2 separate regions of the Homo sapiens genome follow, and region 1 is linked to region 2. The links come from fine-mapping of genetic effects on gene expression. Tissue or cell type: whole blood. Region 2 holds a variant in brackets; the other region holds the start of a gene. All regions are shown on one strand. Distances are from middle to middle.

Region 1 (8,000 bases), 31 kb after region 2:
GAGAGGAAGCGAAAACCACGTCCCCATCCCCAGAATTCTTGGCCTGAGCCCTGGAAAGCTGAGCTGTTGCCTAAGACAAGGCACGCTGGGATGAAGCAGCCCCATGGGCTGGGCGCGGTGGCTCACGCCTGTAATCCCAGCACTTTTGGAGGTTGAGGCGGGTGGATAACTTGAGGCCAGGAGTTCAAGACCAGCCTGGCAACATGGTGAAACCCCGTCTCTACTAAAAATACAAAAATTAGCCTGGCGTGGTGGCACACGCCTGTAATCCTAGCTACTTGGGAGGCTGAGGCAGGAGAATTGCTTGAACCTGGGAGGAGGGGGTTGCAGTGAGCGGAGATCACACCACTGCACTCCAGCCTGGGTGACAGAGCCAGACTCCATCTCAAAAATAAAAATAAAAAACTGAAACAGCTGTATGATGGGTGTGTGGAGTGTGTGGAGTCCCAGACACCCGAGAGATGTGCCTGTGGGGGCTCTGCGCGGCAGGCAGAGGTGACAGGCCGCGGCCTGGTCTCTGTCCCGCCCCCAGGGCCTAGATCTAGGGTCCCTGGCTGCCCTCTGCTGGTACTCCCGGCCCCTTTCCCTCACCCAGGCCAAGACTAAGGGGCTGCAGAGCGGGGTGGACATTGGCGTCAAGTACTCGGAGAAGCAGGAGCGGAATTTCGACGATGCCACCATGAAGGCTGGCCAGTGCGTCATCGGGCTGCAGGTGGGCGACAGCTCCCCCAGCCCCAGGGACCACGGCATTGGGGGACCACGGTGTTGGGGGACAGCAGCATTGGGGGACAGCGGCATGGAGCCCTGTGGTCCCTCAATTTCAGGGAGGGACCGGAAGCTTGTTGGGTGCAGTCTGACCTCTCCCACGAACCTCCCTGCAGATGGGCACCAACAAATGCGCCAGCCAGTCGGGCATGACTGCCTACGGCACGAGAAGGCATCTCTATGACCCCAAGAACCATATCCTGCCCCCCATGGACCACTCGACCATCAGCCTCCAGATGGGCACGAACAAGTGTGCCAGCCAGGTGGGGCTCGCCCGGGTGCCCCCGACTCCTCTCCCTGCCCCTCTACACCCTGTGGTCTCGGCCCCTCCCTGGGGCCACCTCCAGCTTCTCTCCCCACTCTCAGTCTCAGCCCCTTCCCTAGACCACCTCCGGCTTCCCTCCCCGCTCTCTGTCTCCGCCTTGGATTTCAGCCTCTGTCATTTCCACCTGGCTGTGGGTCTCTAGGGAAGTTACTACCTCACCCTGTGTCATTTTCCCTTAAGGACTGCCCAAAGGTCCACCCAATTCTTTTTTTTTAATCTTTATTTATTTTATTTATGTATTTATTTTGAGATAGGATCTCACTCTGTTGTCCAGGCTGGAGTGCAGTGGCACGATCTCGGCTCACTGCAACCTCTGCCTCCCGGGTTCAAGAGATTCTCCTTCCTGCCTCAGCCTCCCGAGTAGCTGGGACTACAGGTGCATGCTGCCACACCCGGCCAATTTTTGTATTTTTAGTAGACATGGGGTTTCACCATGTTGCCCAGGCTGGTCTCGAACTCCTGAGCTCAGGCAATCCACCCGCCTTGACCTCCCAAACTGCTAGGGTTACAGGTGTGAGCCACCGCACCCGGCCACACCCAGCTAATTTTTGTATTTTTAGTAGAGACGGGGTTTCACTGTGTTGGTCAGGCTAGTCTTGAACTCCTGACCTCAGGTGATCCTCCCACCTCAGCCTCCCGAGTAGCTGAGACTACAGGCGCCCGCCACCACGCCCGGCTAATTTTTGTATTTTTAGTAGATATGGGGTTTCACCGTGTTGGCCAGGCTGGTCTTGAACTTCTGACCTCAGGTGATCCTCCCACCTCAGCCTCCCGAGTAGCTGGGATTACAGGCATGTGCCACCACGCCCAGCTAATTTTGTATTTTTGGGAGAGACAGGGTTTCACCGTGTTGGCCAGGCTGGACTGGAACTCCTGACCTCAGGTGATCCTCCCACCTTGGCCTCCCAAAGTGCTGGGATTACAGGCGTGAGCCAGTGCACCCAGTGAAGGTCCCCTCTTCTCTCCACCATGACCTGCTCCACCCCTCCTTCCTCTCCAGGTGGGCATGACGGCTCCCGGGACCCGGCGGCACATCTATGATACCAAGCTGGGAACCGACAAGTGTGACAACTCCTCCATGTCCCTGCAGATGGGCTACACGCAGGGCGCCAACCAGAGCGGCCAGGTCTTCGGCCTGGGCCGGCAGATATATGACCCCAAGTACTGCCCGCAAGGCACAGTGGCCGATGGGGCTCCCTCGGGCACCGGCGACTGCCCGGACCCGGGGGAGGTCCCTGAATATCCCCCTTACTACCAGGAGGAGGCCGGCTACTGAGGCTCCCAGCACGCTCTCTCCCCACATCGTCTGCCCATCTGGGTTTTTGGGTTTTTCTGTGTTTTCATCTTTTTTTTTTTTTTCTTAACCCGTTCAGTGCTGCCAGTCAACCAAGGGTCTGTGAGTGTCAGCGTGGGATCAGGCAGCAGAGCTTTTTTCCCCTTTGCCTTGATCCTTCGCAAGGCTGAGCCACTGGGCTGTGGGGGAAGGGGTCAAGGCCATATCCCAATACGTGTAGGGCGAGGGTCCCTGCTGGCACATTCAGGCTGTGCTGGGAAGAAGAGACCTGGGCTTGGAAGGAACCGGTCCCCGACGGTTTCTGCTTGCCTCGCCTCTTCCCCCTTTTGTCAGCTGAGCAGTTTGTGGTTTCTATGCCCGCAAGTTTCAGGAAGTATTCACAAAAGAAAAATACATTTTTTCCCCCAGGGGTGGGGCAAGGACAGTGGAGAGAGTGCTAGGAAATGAGTCCCCTGGGAAAGGGGACCGGGCCGTGATGTTAAATATCTCCGGCTCCCAAGTGACTGGATTTGCCTAGGACCTTCAGACCAACAGACTTCAGACCCTCAGACCTGCCCCGGGGCCAGGTGGAGAAAGTGAGGGCCGTACAAGGAAGTGAAATTCTGAGTTGTTGGGGCTAAGCCTGACCCCCTCTCCATGCTCCCCGCCCCAACCCACTCTGGCCTCAGTAGATTTTTTTTTCAGTTGTGGTTGTTGCCCAGGCTGGAGTGCAGTGGCGCCATCTTGGCTCACTGCACCTCCACCTTCCGGGCTCAAGCGATTCTCCAGCCTCAGCCTCCTGAGTAGCTAGGACTGCAGGTGCTCCACCACGCCCGGCTAATTTTTGTATTTTTAGTAGAGATGGGGTTTCCCCATGTTGGCCAGGCTGGTCTCGAACTCCTGGCCTCAGGTGTGATCCGCCCGCCTCCGCCTCCCCAAGCGCTGAGATTACAGGTGTGAGCCACCGTGCCCAGCCCCTCAGTAGGTTTTAAGGAGCCCCCAGCCCTCCTCCCTTCTGGGCCCGACCAGCTTATACTGCTCCATCTTCCCCGGCCACATGCCCCGCCAAGTACTGCACAGGGACCCCCCACCCAGGGGACCTGCTCCGTGAGATAATGTGAAATACGACTGTGGACCAAACGCAATAAAACCTCTGTTTGTACGAAGAGAAGGTGGCCAAGAGAGTTGGCGTCGATGAGGGCGTGCTTTGCTTTGATGCTTTTGTGGGGAGAGAGGAGGTCTTGGGGGATGGGGGGATCAAGGGGAAAATGTCCACCTCACCATTGGGAGGAGGAGCAAAAGCTGAAGCCACAGGTGAGTCTGGGTGGAATGAATGATTTGAAGGGCCGGGACTTGGGGTAGAGGGAGAGGCTGGGCTTCCTGGCCATTTGGAGAAGAGGCAGTTCCCTCAAATGCCCCCCATGCGCTTTGGCTGCACTCTACCTTACAGCGCAAGTCTCGTGGCCTCAGCCTGGATGTCTCCCCGTTGGCGAACTCCTATTTATCCTCAAAGCCCCAACGGCAATGCCACCTCCTGCCGCGGGAGCCGTCCCCACGCCTCTCACTCTCCCCAGCGCCTTCAAAGCTGTGGACCCACACGCTCCCATTTCAGCTTCACCTCCAGCCTGAAGAGTTTATTTCAACTCTTCTTCCAGAGTGGGAAACGGGTTTTCCTCAAAATCAGGGTAGCCACTATAATCGGAGACTCTAGAATGTTGGCCCCCTCCCCCTCCTGCCATCCTCTGCAGAAGCCGAGGAGCGTTCGTGGAATGAATGAATGAACGAATGATCTAGTGGAACCCCTACTTTACAGACGGACGAGTGTAGTCCCAGAGTCTGGACTAAACTAGAGGGAGCCTGGCCAGCCCCGGGGACAGCGGGGACAGAGGGAACTCCTGCAATTCGGAGCTGCGGTATTGCAGCCGGTTATACAACGTGGGGAGGCAGCCTGGCTCCCCAAAGACAGCGCAGCCTCGTTCCCGGAGGGCGGCCTGCCTGGGACCTGCCGGGCACTCCGCCACCCTACGGTGATGCAGCAAGAGCCGCGCGGTCCCTTTAAGAAACCCGGCTAGGCGAGGCCCTTCTGTGATCCCGTCTCCTCCCTTGGCCCGCGCAGCTCCGACGGAGCAGGCCAGTGAGTGACGGGCAGGTCGCCCAATAGCAGCGTGCAGAGGCAGGGGCGTGCCCCGGCGCTGCTACCTGCGCGGGCAAGCTCAGCGCACTTGGCTTAAGGGGCGGCGCGCTCCCTGCCTGCTGCTGGGCGGAGGGAAGGCGGCAAGAGCTGCGGAGCCCCTGGAAGGTGAGAAGGACTCGGAGAGGGAAGAAGGCCCGAGACTCGAGAATGCGGGGTTGGGGCCGGGAGGGATGCAAGTTCCCTGGGAATTAGGGGGTCCAGCCTCTGACCTCCTTCCGGTGAATGTTGACGACGGCTGAATTGATCACTGATTCTCAAGGGGGGCATCGGACATCTGGGACCCTTAAGAGGGCCTTTGCCGATCACACACCTGCAGCCCCCTGCCCGTTAGAACTCCTGCACTCCCCCTTGCCCCGTCTTACAAATGGAGAAACTGAGCCCACTCCCCCAGATCCTAAGTCCCGCTTGATGTAAAGGAAAGAACCCTGGCGTAAGGGTCTGGGTCTGAGGTCCCAGTTCCGGCCTGGTCACCTTTAGCAACTTCCTGCCCCTCTGTCAGCGTCAGATTCTCCATCTGTGTCAGAGGTGGACCGGCCCAAGGAAAATAGATCAGGAATCGCTGACTCCAGGAGTCTCTATCCCAGCCCCTTCGCCTGACTCTTTCTCTGGCTCCCGCGGTCCCTCTGAGCGATTAATGCTACATAAGGTGTGGGCAGAGCTGGGGTCGTGCCTCCAGCTGGGCAACTGCCTGTCTCTCTGGGTGCCTGGGTTTGCTTTCTTGGGCCTCGGTTTCCACTTCTGTAGAGTGGGGTGATAGTCCAGCACTTCCCCTGGGCGTGTGAAATGTCCAGCACTGCCAATATTCGTTGCTGTTATCTTCGGAGAACAGTGAGGGGAAAGGAATCCTTGCCTGGGCTGGGCCAGGCAGGAGGCTGGGGGTCAGGACCTGGAAGAGGCTTCCAGGTGAGGCTTGGGGTGGAGCCTGGTGACGAAAGCGTTAAGCCCAAACTCGGTCCCTGGAGGATTAGAGGATGATCTTTAAGTCCCCAGCTGTCAGCCCTGCTCAGAGCGACAGTCCTGGCAGCCAATCAGATGCGAGGACGGCTGCGGGTTGCGCTCCCATTGGTTTACTCCACCCCTGGGGTAGCGGAGCCTCTTTATCGAGTGACTACTGTTTGCCTCGCTCTAATCAGAGCTTCCAGGAACCCTGCGCTGTGGGATAAAGGAATGAGGTTCAGAAAGGGGCAGGGAGTTGCCCGCAGCCGCACCGCACGTCTTCAGCCCGACCGTTGTCCTGACCTCTCTGTCCCGTCCCCTGCCCAGTCTCACCATGGCCTTCTGGACACAGCTGATGCTGCTGCTCTGGAAGAATTTCATGTATCGCCGGAGACAGCCGGTAACGCCCCAGTGTGAGACCAGGGCCGGGTGGGCAGGCAGCCCCCACTGTCCCCCACCGTCTCCCACCTATTCTCCCCCAGGTCCAGCTCCTGGTCGAATTGCTGTGGCCTCTCTTCCTCTTCTTCATCCTGGTGGCTGTTCGCCACTCCCACCCGCCCCTGGAGCACCATGAATGTGAGCCCCCCCAGGGACCAGGCACTTTGTGTGTGTAGGGGAAGGCAGATGGCTCACCCGTGCACAGGAATCCCCCGTGCATGTCAGGGAGCCTTCACCAGGCCGCCAATACATGGCATGGGAGTGAGCTCTCCATCGCTGGAGGCATGCAAGCGGTGCCGGGCGACCCGATGGGGGTGGAGTCAGGCAGAGTCCACAGGGCCTCAGCACCAGGCGTCTCCCCGCAGGCCACTTCCCAAACAAGCCACTGCCATCGGCGGGCACCGTGCCCTGGCTCCAGGGTCTCATCTGTAATGTGAACAACACCTGCTTTCCGCAGCTGACACCGGGCGAGGAGCCCGGGCGCCTGAGCAACTTCAACGACTCCCTGTGAGCCAGAGGCAGTGGGTGCGGCCGGCCTGCAAACTCGGGGCTGCAGTGCCGGCCGGAACCCCGCCTCCTGCCCTCTCTCTGTCCCCAGGGTCTCCCGGCTGCTAGCCGATGCCCGCACTGTGCTGGGAGGGGCCAGTGCCCACAGGACGCTGGCTGGCCTAGGGAAGCTGATCGCCACGCTGAGGGCTGCACGCAGCACGGGTGAGGAGGCCGGGGGGCCTCTGGCAGGGCTGAGCTCTGAGCCTCAACTTGCCGGGCCGTGAAATGGGCACAGGGTGGGGGTGGGTGCCTCAGACCAACGTCCCCCCAGCCCCATGCTCCCGTGCGCTCCTCCCCCAGCCCAGCCTCAACCAACCAAGCAGTCTCCACTGGAACCACCCATGCTGGATGTCGCGGAGCTGCTGACGTCACTGCTGCGCACGGTAGGGTGTCGGGGCGGGACCGCGCTGACTTCCTGGGACACTGCACTGGGGATGTCCTGGCACTGCCCCACCCCGGGCCAAGGACCTCCCGTTCCAGGCATCCAGGCTGTCCCTGGTCTCTGCGGTGATGCTGCTTGTCCGTCTGGGCCCCCAGACAGAGTGTGTCTGACCCAGTGAGGAAGACTCGTCTGTGAGATCTCCAATGAGTCCCTTTGCCTCTCAGAGCCTCAGTTTCCCTATTTGTAAAGTGGGGGCTATGATAGTATGGTCTGCCTGGGAACTGGCCAGAGCGCTGGACCCCTAGTGAGTGTTCAAAATCATTGTCCCCCTTGTGGTCTTTCTCCCCAGGAATCCCTGGGGTTGGCACTGGGCCAAGCCCAGGAGCCCTTGCACAGCTTGTTGGAGGCCGCTGAGGACCTGGCCCAGGAGGTACGAGGCCCCACTCATCCTCAACCCCCATGGAGGCAACGTTGGCAGGCAGCCTGCGCCGGGAGGGTCTGGGGCAGCCCGGGCACTTCCCTTGGGTGGGTTTTCAGGAGGATTAGACAGCGAGAGGGAGAGGCTGCCCCTGGCCCAGTGCCCTGCCCTGGTTAGGGCTTGGAGGTGGGATCATTGCCAGCTCCGTCTGGTAACCTCTCTCTAGCTCCTGGCGCTGCGCAGCCTGGTGGAGCTTCGGGCACTGCTGCAGAGACCCCGAGGGACCAGCGGCCCCCTGGAGTTGCTGTCAGAGGCCCTCTGCAGTGTCAGGGGACCTAGCAGCACAGTGGGCCCCTCCCTCAACTGGTACGAGGCTAGTGACCTGATGGAGCTGGTGGGGCAGGAGCCAGAATCCGCCCTGCCAGACAGCAGCCTGAGTGAGTGACTGACCTCGGTTTCCCCTCTTGGGAAGTGGAACTCTGGGCAGGGGGGCAGGGCCTCATGGCACCCCCATCCCAGGCCCCGCCTGCTCGGAGCTGATTGGAGCCCTGGACAGCCACCCGCTGTCCCGCCTGCTCTGGAGACGCCTGAAGCCTCTGATCCTCGGGAAGCTACTCTTTGCACCAGATACACCTTTTACCCGGAAGCTCATGGCCCAGGTGGGGGCAGCCTGGATGCTGGGGTGGGAGGGTGGTGGCCAGAGCCCATCCAGTACCCTCA
Region 2 (8,000 bases):
ACGGGTCTCTGGCTGAGCCCTGGAGGAGTTCCTGAGAATGAACAACTCCTGGAAACAGGTGACCCCAGCTGGGTGCTTGTGTGTCAGTCACTGGCTTCAGGCGTATGTGGAGTGGGGGCACAGCCACGGCATCGGGCACGGATGCCCCGGGATCAAGGGGTTAGGCTTGGGGACTAGGCTTGGGGACACCAGGAGCGTCCACGTTTGTCCTCATGATACGGACAAGAGCGACCAGTGGGAATCGGGCACGTGCTGGGCAGGGGTGAGAGGATGGAGGGGTGTGAACTTCGACACCTGACACCCCCCCCGCCCTGCCCCTAGGTTCCTGGCCAACACGTCCTTCCAGGGCCGCACGGGCCCCGTGTGGGTGACAGGCAGCTCCCAGGTACACATGTCTCGGCACTTTAAGGTGTGGAGCCTTCGCCGGGACCCACGGGGCGCCCCGGCCTGGGCCACGGTGGGCAGCTGGCGGGACGGCCAGCTGGACTTGGAACCGGGAGGTGCCTCTGCACGGCCCCCGCCCCCACAGGGTGCCCAGGTCTGGCCCAAGCTGCGTGTGGTAACGCTGTTGGAACACCCATTTGTGTTTGCCCGTGATCCAGACGAAGACGGGCAGTGCCCAGCGGGGCAGCTGTGCCTGGACCCTGGCACCAACGACTCGGCCACCCTGGACGCACTGTTCGCCGCGCTGGCCAACGGCTCAGCGCCCCGTGCCCTGCGCAAGTGCTGCTACGGCTACTGCATTGACCTGCTGGAGCGGCTGGCGGAGGACACGCCCTTCGACTTCGAGCTGTACCTCGTGGGTGACGGCAAGTACGGCGCCCTGCGGGACGGCCGCTGGACCGGCCTGGTCGGGGACCTGCTGGCCGGCCGGGCCCACATGGCGGTCACCAGCTTCAGTATCAACTCCGCCCGCTCACAGGTGGTGGACTTCACCAGCCCCTTCTTCTCCACCAGCCTGGGCATCATGGTGCGGGCACGGGACACGGCCTCACCCATCGGTGCCTTTATGTGGCCCCTGCACTGGTCCACGTGGCTGGGCGTCTTTGCGGCCCTGCACCTCACCGCGCTCTTCCTCACCGTGTACGAGTGGCGTAGCCCCTACGGCCTCACGCCACGTGGCCGCAACCGCAGCACCGTCTTCTCCTACTCCTCAGCCCTCAACCTGTGCTACGCCATCCTCTTCAGACGCACCGTGTCCAGCAAGACGCCCAAGTGCCCCACGGGCCGCCTGCTCATGAACCTCTGGGCCATCTTCTGCCTGCTGGTGCTGTCCAGCTACACGGCCAACCTGGCTGCCGTCATGGTCGGGGACAAGACCTTCGAGGAGCTGTCGGGGATCCACGACCCCAAGGTGGGCGGCCTCGGGGGGCTGCGGGTGGCCTTGGGGGGCTAGCGGTGGCCCCGGGCTGGGCTGTGTGGGGCAGGGGTGGTCAGCTGGACGTGGAGGACGTCCACTAGGCCAACTCTGGTCCCAAGAGACATTTATTCAATTAATTTATTTATTTAAAGAAAAATAGCCGGGCGCGGTGGCTCACGCCTGTAATCCCAGCACTTTGGGAGACCAAGGCAGGCAGATCACCTGAAGTCAGGAGTCTCGAACTGGAGCCTGGCCAACATGGTGAAACCCCATCTTTACTAAAAAATACAAAGAATTAGCTGAGCATGGTGGTGGGCACCTGTAATCCCAGCTACTCGGGAGGCTGAGGCAGGAGAATCACTTGAACCCAGGAGGCGGAGGTTGCAGTGAATCAAGATGGCACCATTGCACTCTAGCCTGGGCAACAGAGCAAGACTCCGTCTCAAAAAACAAAAAACAAAACAAAAAACACAGAGATGGGGGGCTGGCTATGTTGTTCAGGCTGGTCTCAAACGCCGGGGCTCAAGCAGTTCTCCCACCTTGGCCTCCCAAAGTGCTGGGATTACAGGCGTGAGCCACCGCATCCAGCCTATTTTTCTTTTCTTTTTTGAGACAGTCTTGCTCCATCGCCCAGGCTGGAGCGCAGTGGCACGATCTTGGCTCACTGCAACCTCTGCCTCCTGGGCTCAAGCGATTCTCCTGCCTCAGCCTCCCAAGTAGCTGGGATTACAGGTGTGCACCACCAAGCCTGGCTTTTGTATTTTCAGTAGAGTTGGCGGGTTTCACCATGTTGGCCAGGCTGGTCTCGAACCCCTGACCTCGTGATCCGCCCACCTCGGCCTCCCAAGTGCTGGGATCACAGGTGTGAGCCACCACATCTGGCCCGTATTATTATTATTTTTTTTTGAGACAGAGTCTCACTCTTGCCCAGAGCTGGAGTGCAGTGATCTCAGCTCACCGCAACCTCCACCTCCCAGGTTCAAGCAATTCTCCTGCCTCAGCCTCCCACAGTGCTGGGATTAGACGTGAGCCATCGTGCCCGGCCTCCCCTTGTAATTTCTTGGCAAAGTCGGGTTTTCTGCCCCGTAGTGTCTCTGAACTTTTGGATCTGCCCAGTGGTGTCCCCTGGGGGTGCCTGGCCTGCTCCCCAGCCCCTGGTGTCCCCTGTGAAACGGTAGTAAAGCGTAGACGCCATGCTGTCAGGTGAGCCGACTGCTGCCGGCGGCTCTTCCAATGTAAACGCTGCACAGCTGAGCCGTCAAAGCCTTTTCATCATACGGAAACTTCCATCAGATGCTGCTGACCCACAGGCACGATGGGATTCAAGTTTGGGTTTTTGGTGGTGCTGGAATCCCGTGGGGAGGCCGTGGCTGGTGTGACCTCAGCAGCCAGACCCACCTACTCATTAGGGGTCTGCACCAGGTTGCCCTGGCAGCTGTGGGGAGAACAGACCACGGGTGGTGCAGGGAGGACCCCGCAGAGGGGCCTGGGCTGGTCGAGGATGTTGATGGGGAAGGAGGCTGGGTTCGACGCTGGGCCCCAACCTGGGTAGGAGCTGTGGAGGGGTGAGCAGTGGGCAGTTCCCTGTGTTGCAGGTGGCGCCCCCCAGGGTTTTCGGGAGAAACAGGGTGTCAGAGGCAGTGACGACAGAGCTGCCTCCGCCTGGGGTGGGAAGAGCGAGTGGGGGCAGATCAGGAGTGGGGTCATGGACATGTTAGAGTGGGGCTCCCGTGGGACCCCCAGGGGAGAGGCAGAGGAGGTGGTGGGATAGGCGTCCAGCCCAGGGCGAGGTCCAGGTGGAGATGGACTTGCCGGCGTTTAGAACAGAGGGTCTCCACCCGGGGTGATCCTGCCCCCCGCCCCAGGGGACCCTGGACAGTGTGTGTCTAGAGACAGCTGTGGTGGTCACGCCTGGGGTGTGCTCTGGGCATGGAGTGGGTGGAGGCCAGGAATGCAGCCTCGGCGCCCTGCAGTGCCCAGGACGGCCCCACCCCGGAGAACGGCGCGCCCCTCAATGGTCAGGGGTCCTGAGGGGCAGGCAGAGGCGCTGACGGGGTCCCCCGCGCAGCTGCACCACCCGGCGCAGGGCTTCCGCTTCGGCACCGTGTGGGAGAGCAGCGCCGAGGCGTACATCAAGAAGAGCTTCCCCGACATGCACGCACACATGCGGCGCCACAGCGCGCCCACCACGCCCCGCGGCGTCGCCATGCTCACGTGAGCCCGGGCGCGGGGTGAGGCGGGGGCGGGGCGTGGGGTGGGCGGGGCGATGGCTGACCCCCGCCCCCGGCCCCAGCAGGAGCGACCCCCCCAAGCTCAACGCCTTCATCATGGACAAGTCGCTCCTGGACTACGAGGTCTCCATCGACGCCGACTGCAAACTGCTGACCGTGGGAAAGCCCTTCGCCATTGAGGGTGAGAGGCACCTGGGCGAGGCGGGGCGCCGGGGTCTCTGGGGACCTCCTGGGGGCAGTGGGGAGCCACGGAGGGTTCGAGGTGGGAAGGGGCGAAATCCCACGTGTGCGGGCAGAGTTCCCCTGGGGCTGTCCCACCTGGCCCCACCGCCTGGCCCCGCGCCCCCAGGCTATGGGATCGGACTGCCCCAGAACTCGCCGCTCACCTCCAACCTGTCCGAGTTCATCAGCCGCTACAAGTCCTCCGGCTTCATCGACCTGCTCCACGACAAGTGGTACAAGATGGTGCCTTGCGGCAAGCGGGTCTTTGCGGTTACAGAGGTGGGGCAGGGCCTGGGACAGAGGGTGGGGGTGGGGGTGGGCGTGGGGGGCCCTGAGCCTTGTCTGAAGTGACCAACCCCAGTGCTCATTCCCCAGACGTGCGTTTGTCTGCTTCTGCGCACTTCTATTCACCCTACAAAACCCCGGCTGCAGTGCCCCTTCCTCCATGAAACCTCACTCCCCCCAGCCATGGAGTCCCTGCCTCCCAACCTGGCTCCACTGCCCCAAGCCCCTCTCTCTGGCCCAACCTGTTCTCCCCTAGTTCAAGGCTCCCCAGGGGCCTGCCATTACGTGACCGTGCGGGGCTCCTGCTGTGTTGCCCCCAGACCCTGCAGATGAGCATCTACCACTTCG[C/A]GGGCCTCTTCGTGTTGCTGTGCCTGGGCCTGGGCAGCGCTCTGCTCAGCTCGCTGGGCGAGCACGCCTTCTTCCGCCTGGCGCTGCCGCGCATCCGCAAGGGGAGCAGGCTGCAGTACTGGCTGCACACCAGCCAGGTGGGGAGCGGGTGGGCGGCGGGCGGCCCCACCCCCCCCGCCTCCTCGCCAACCGGGTCTGTCTGGGGTCTTAGAAAATCCACCGCGCCCTCAACACGGAGCCACCAGAGGGGTCGAAGGAGGAGACGGCAGAGGCGGAGCCCAGGTAAGTGGTGGTCGGGGCGGACCACGATGCAGGACCACCCAGACCCACCACCCCACCAGCTCGCCCCGAAGCCGGCCGCGGGGTGCAGGAGGTTCCCGGAGGTCCCCCGCCCACCCCCGGACGTGCACACCGTGGCTCCCTGGTTGTGCCTGTCGGCCATCCTCTGCCGTCAGCGGCCTCTGCAGAGGCCCAGGGCGCGAGACGGCTGCCCCGGCGGACACTGACCAGGCCGGTTCCGTCCCCAGCGGCCCCGAGGTGGAGCAGCAGCAGCAGCAGCAGGACCAGCCAACGGCTCCGGAGGGCTGGAAACGGGCGCGCCGGGCCGTGGACAAGGAGCGCCGCGTGCGCTTCCTGCTGGAGCCCGCCGTGGTTGTGGCACCCGAAGCGGACGCGGAGGCGGAGGCTGCGCCGCGAGAGGGCCCCGTCTGGCTGTGCTCCTACGGCCGCCCGCCCGCCGCAAGGCCCACGGGGGCCCCCCAGCCCGGGGAGCTGCAGGAGCTGGAGCGCCGCATCGAAGTCGCGCGTGAGCGGCTCCGCCAGGCCCTGGTGCGGCGCGGCCAGCTCCTGGCACAGCTCGGGGACAGCGCACGTCACCGGCCTCGGCGCTTGCTTCAGGCCAGAGCGGCCCCCGCGGAGGCCCCACCACACTCTGGCCGACCGGGGAGCCAGGAATGAGGCGGCAGCCGGGCCGTTTGGGCTCAAGACACACACACAGCGCAGTGAGCCGCTGTCAACAGACAGTTTATTCTATATACAAACACAATTTTGTACACTGCAATTAAATAGAATGGAATGAGCGCTCCTCCGCATTCCTCCCCGAGTGACTGGTTTGGCCGCCGGCCCACTCCATCCCCGAGTGGGACTGGACCACGGCCCTGGCTGCTGCCACTGATGTTGGCGCCTGCACCCCACGTCCCTATGCCCGAGGCGCAAGCTCTGCTCTCCCGGGGACCCCAAGCCTGGCGCACACGCGGGGAGGGCGGGGCCATGGAGAAGGCACTGCAGGGAGCACCAGGCAGAGCCGGGCTGAGGCCGGCCGGCACTAGGGCGCGAGGCCCCACCCCAAGCCGGCCTCTCCTCCACACCTCCGCCTTGCTCAGAGACCTGCACCATGGGACCCCACTCCATCCTCAGGACGGTTCACTGCAGACCTACCAAGACCCCTCCAGAACCTTCCGCGGAACCCCACCCCCTCTCCTTGCTGACCAGCTCAAACACCTCACTAGCGGGTACAAGCCTCGGGCGCGACCTCACACCAGGGGGAGGAAAGCCGCCTTCCGGGCAAACCCCACGAAACCCTGAAAGCCCCCGACACAGGCTGGGCAGTCCCAGAGGAAGGAGGTGGCTGGCCTCCCCCACCCCCACGGGCTCGGGAAGGTCAGGCCCAGCCAGCAGGGGTCAGAGGCGGCTCAGCTGTGCGGCTCAGGACCCCACCTCCGAGGGCGCCTCCGTTGGGGCCATGGAGGCCGGGCTAGGCCCGCCTACCGCAGCCCCCAGGGGAGTTGTGTCAGAAGCTGCGGAGTCACTCGGGGGGACACTGTCCTGGGGGGCGTGGGGGAGGCCCCCAGCAGGGCCCAGCGGGCTGGCTGGACGCCGCTCCAGGAGGGAGGCGCTCAGGCCGGACAGGAAGGAGGCGTCTGTGATGATGGCAGCGGTCTCTGCCATCCAACCCAGGTCACCACCGGCAGCTGCTGCCACTGAGGCTGCCGCGGCCACCAGGGAGCTGGGCGCCGCTGCCACAGGCCCGGGACTCCCGCTGGCCCCAGGCGAGACGGGGCCCAGGGCGGGGGGCTGGCCGGCAGAGTCAGGGGCTGTAGCCGGGGCGCCCGAGTTGTTGTTCATGTCATCGGGCAGCGCCGTGGGGGTCCCGGGGCCCAGTGGCGGCGCCTGAAGCAGCATCTCCTGGATGCGGACCTGCTGCAGGATGGCAGGCAGCTCGTAGTGGTGGAAGAAGTAGATCATGGAATGCTGCGGGAGGGAGAGTGGGAGTCAGGACGGGCCCGCCCCTGCCCCACCCAGCCGCTGCTCCCAGAGGGCAGCCCACCCGGGACCATCCACGCTACCTCTGCCCGCTTGGGCCGACCCCACAGGGCATCCTCCCCGGCTGCAGCCTCTCCTGCCTGGAAAGGCACGGCTGGCCTGCCCCCTGCTTGCCGCCCAGGCCTCACCTGGATGAAGAGCCAGGAGGTGACCAGGGCCAGGCTGCTATACTGCCCATTGAAGCGGTAGTGATAGGCATAGAAGGCGAAGTGGTAGAGATAGAAGAACCTGCGGGGCGGGGTGAGGGCGTCGGGGCTGCAGGTCCCACCCTGCCAGGCCCAGCCCCTGGGGTTCCCGCGTGGCGCAGCCACCACCCCCGCCTCCAGCGCCCCTCCCTCTGGCAGCCCCCTACCCCTGCCCACCAGCACCCACTCCACCCTGCCCCCGCGCCACGCTCACCGCAGCCAATGCCGCTTGCTGGTGCTGGTGTGGCAGCAGATGGCGTCATACTGGTCCGCGAGCCACACGATGAGGATGATGTAGAAGGCGGTGGTGGTGTCGTTGAAGAACTCCGACATGATGGCCTCCATCCCTGCAGGGAGAGGCGGCGCCGGTTGAAGCGGGCGGGGCGGGGTGCAGCGCGGGGCGGGGGAGGCCGGGTGGGGTCCTCACCGACGAGGGCCAGGATGACGGTCAGCAGGGGCGCTGCGGGGAAGGCGATGGCCATGTTCATCTCCAGCATCTGCAGCAGGTCCACTGCGGGCACAGGGCGGCGGGCGCCCGGTGAGGGCCTGGAGGACGCCCGCCCCGCCCTGCGCCGGCGGGACACTCACCGATGAAGACGAAGATCTGGTGGTGTGAGTACCGCAGCAGCATGGACACGCTCAGCGTCTGCAAGGGGCGCGCAGGAAGCGCTATGAGGGGCTGCGAGGGCCTGCTTGGCTCCCGCCCGGCCAGCCCCCGCACCCGCCCCGAGGCACTCACGAAGATGACCATGATGGCGAAGGCGGCCAGGTAGGACGTCCGCGCCATCCACATGCTCACAAAGCGGTAGTGCTCGCCCGACACCACATTCCGCAGGAAGCCTGCAGCAGAAGGAGCCGTGAGCGCCCGCCCCCACCCGCGCCCTCGCACCCTCGGCCCCGGGGCATGCCTCACCCTTGTTCTCCTCGTTCTCGGCCAGGCCCTTCACGCTGGACATGAGGATGTCATCGTAGCCCAGGAACTCATCCAGCAGCAGGCGGCTGAAGCGGTCCCCGAAGCACTGGTCCCGCGTGGGGTCTGCGGGTGGG

The links. PIP is the estimated chance that this variant, and not a neighbour inherited with it, causes the effect.
Region 1: ABCA7 starts here. The variant in region 2 is fine-mapped to the expression of ABCA7 in whole blood (INTERVAL, PIP above 0.99).

What each region holds. Positions count from the first base shown.
Region 1 is chr19:1,035,535-1,043,534 of GRCh38, forward strand. ABCA7 (ATP binding cassette subfamily A member 7) reads left to right here and starts at 4,573. Exons shown (of 47, transcript NM_019112.4): 1 at 4,573-4,662; 2 at 5,691-5,893; 3 at 5,976-6,069; 4 at 6,297-6,438; 5 at 6,530-6,642; 6 at 6,781-6,863; 7 at 7,212-7,292; 8 at 7,507-7,717; 9 at 7,800-7,939. The coding sequence starts at 5,828. It overlaps CNN2 (calponin 2), which reads left to right. Exons shown (of 7, transcript NM_004368.4): 5 at 596-712; 6 at 882-1,028; 7 at 2,091-3,531. The coding sequence ends at 2,366. RefSeq lists enhancers at 2,579-3,138, 2,726-3,227, 3,228-3,727, 5,620-6,417 and a silencer at 5,569-5,708.
Region 2 is chr19:1,004,200-1,012,199 of GRCh38, forward strand. GRIN3B (glutamate ionotropic receptor NMDA type subunit 3B) reads left to right here. Exons shown (of 9, transcript NM_138690.3): 3 at 322-1,354; 4 at 3,429-3,574; 5 at 3,657-3,772; 6 at 3,941-4,092; 7 at 4,419-4,583; 8 at 4,658-4,728; 9 at 4,974-5,533. The coding sequence ends at 5,403. TMEM259 (transmembrane protein 259) reads right to left here. Exons shown (of 11, transcript NM_001033026.2): 5 at 7,867-7,989; 6 at 7,693-7,793; 7 at 7,542-7,599; 8 at 7,381-7,464; 9 at 7,168-7,300; 10 at 6,897-6,996; 11 at 5,454-6,696. The coding sequence ends at 6,151. Among named protein-coding and RNA genes, the nearest start is that of GRIN3B, 7.8 kb to the left of the region's middle. RefSeq lists a silencer at 5,330-5,520. The variant C/A (reference allele first, on the strand shown) is at 4,447.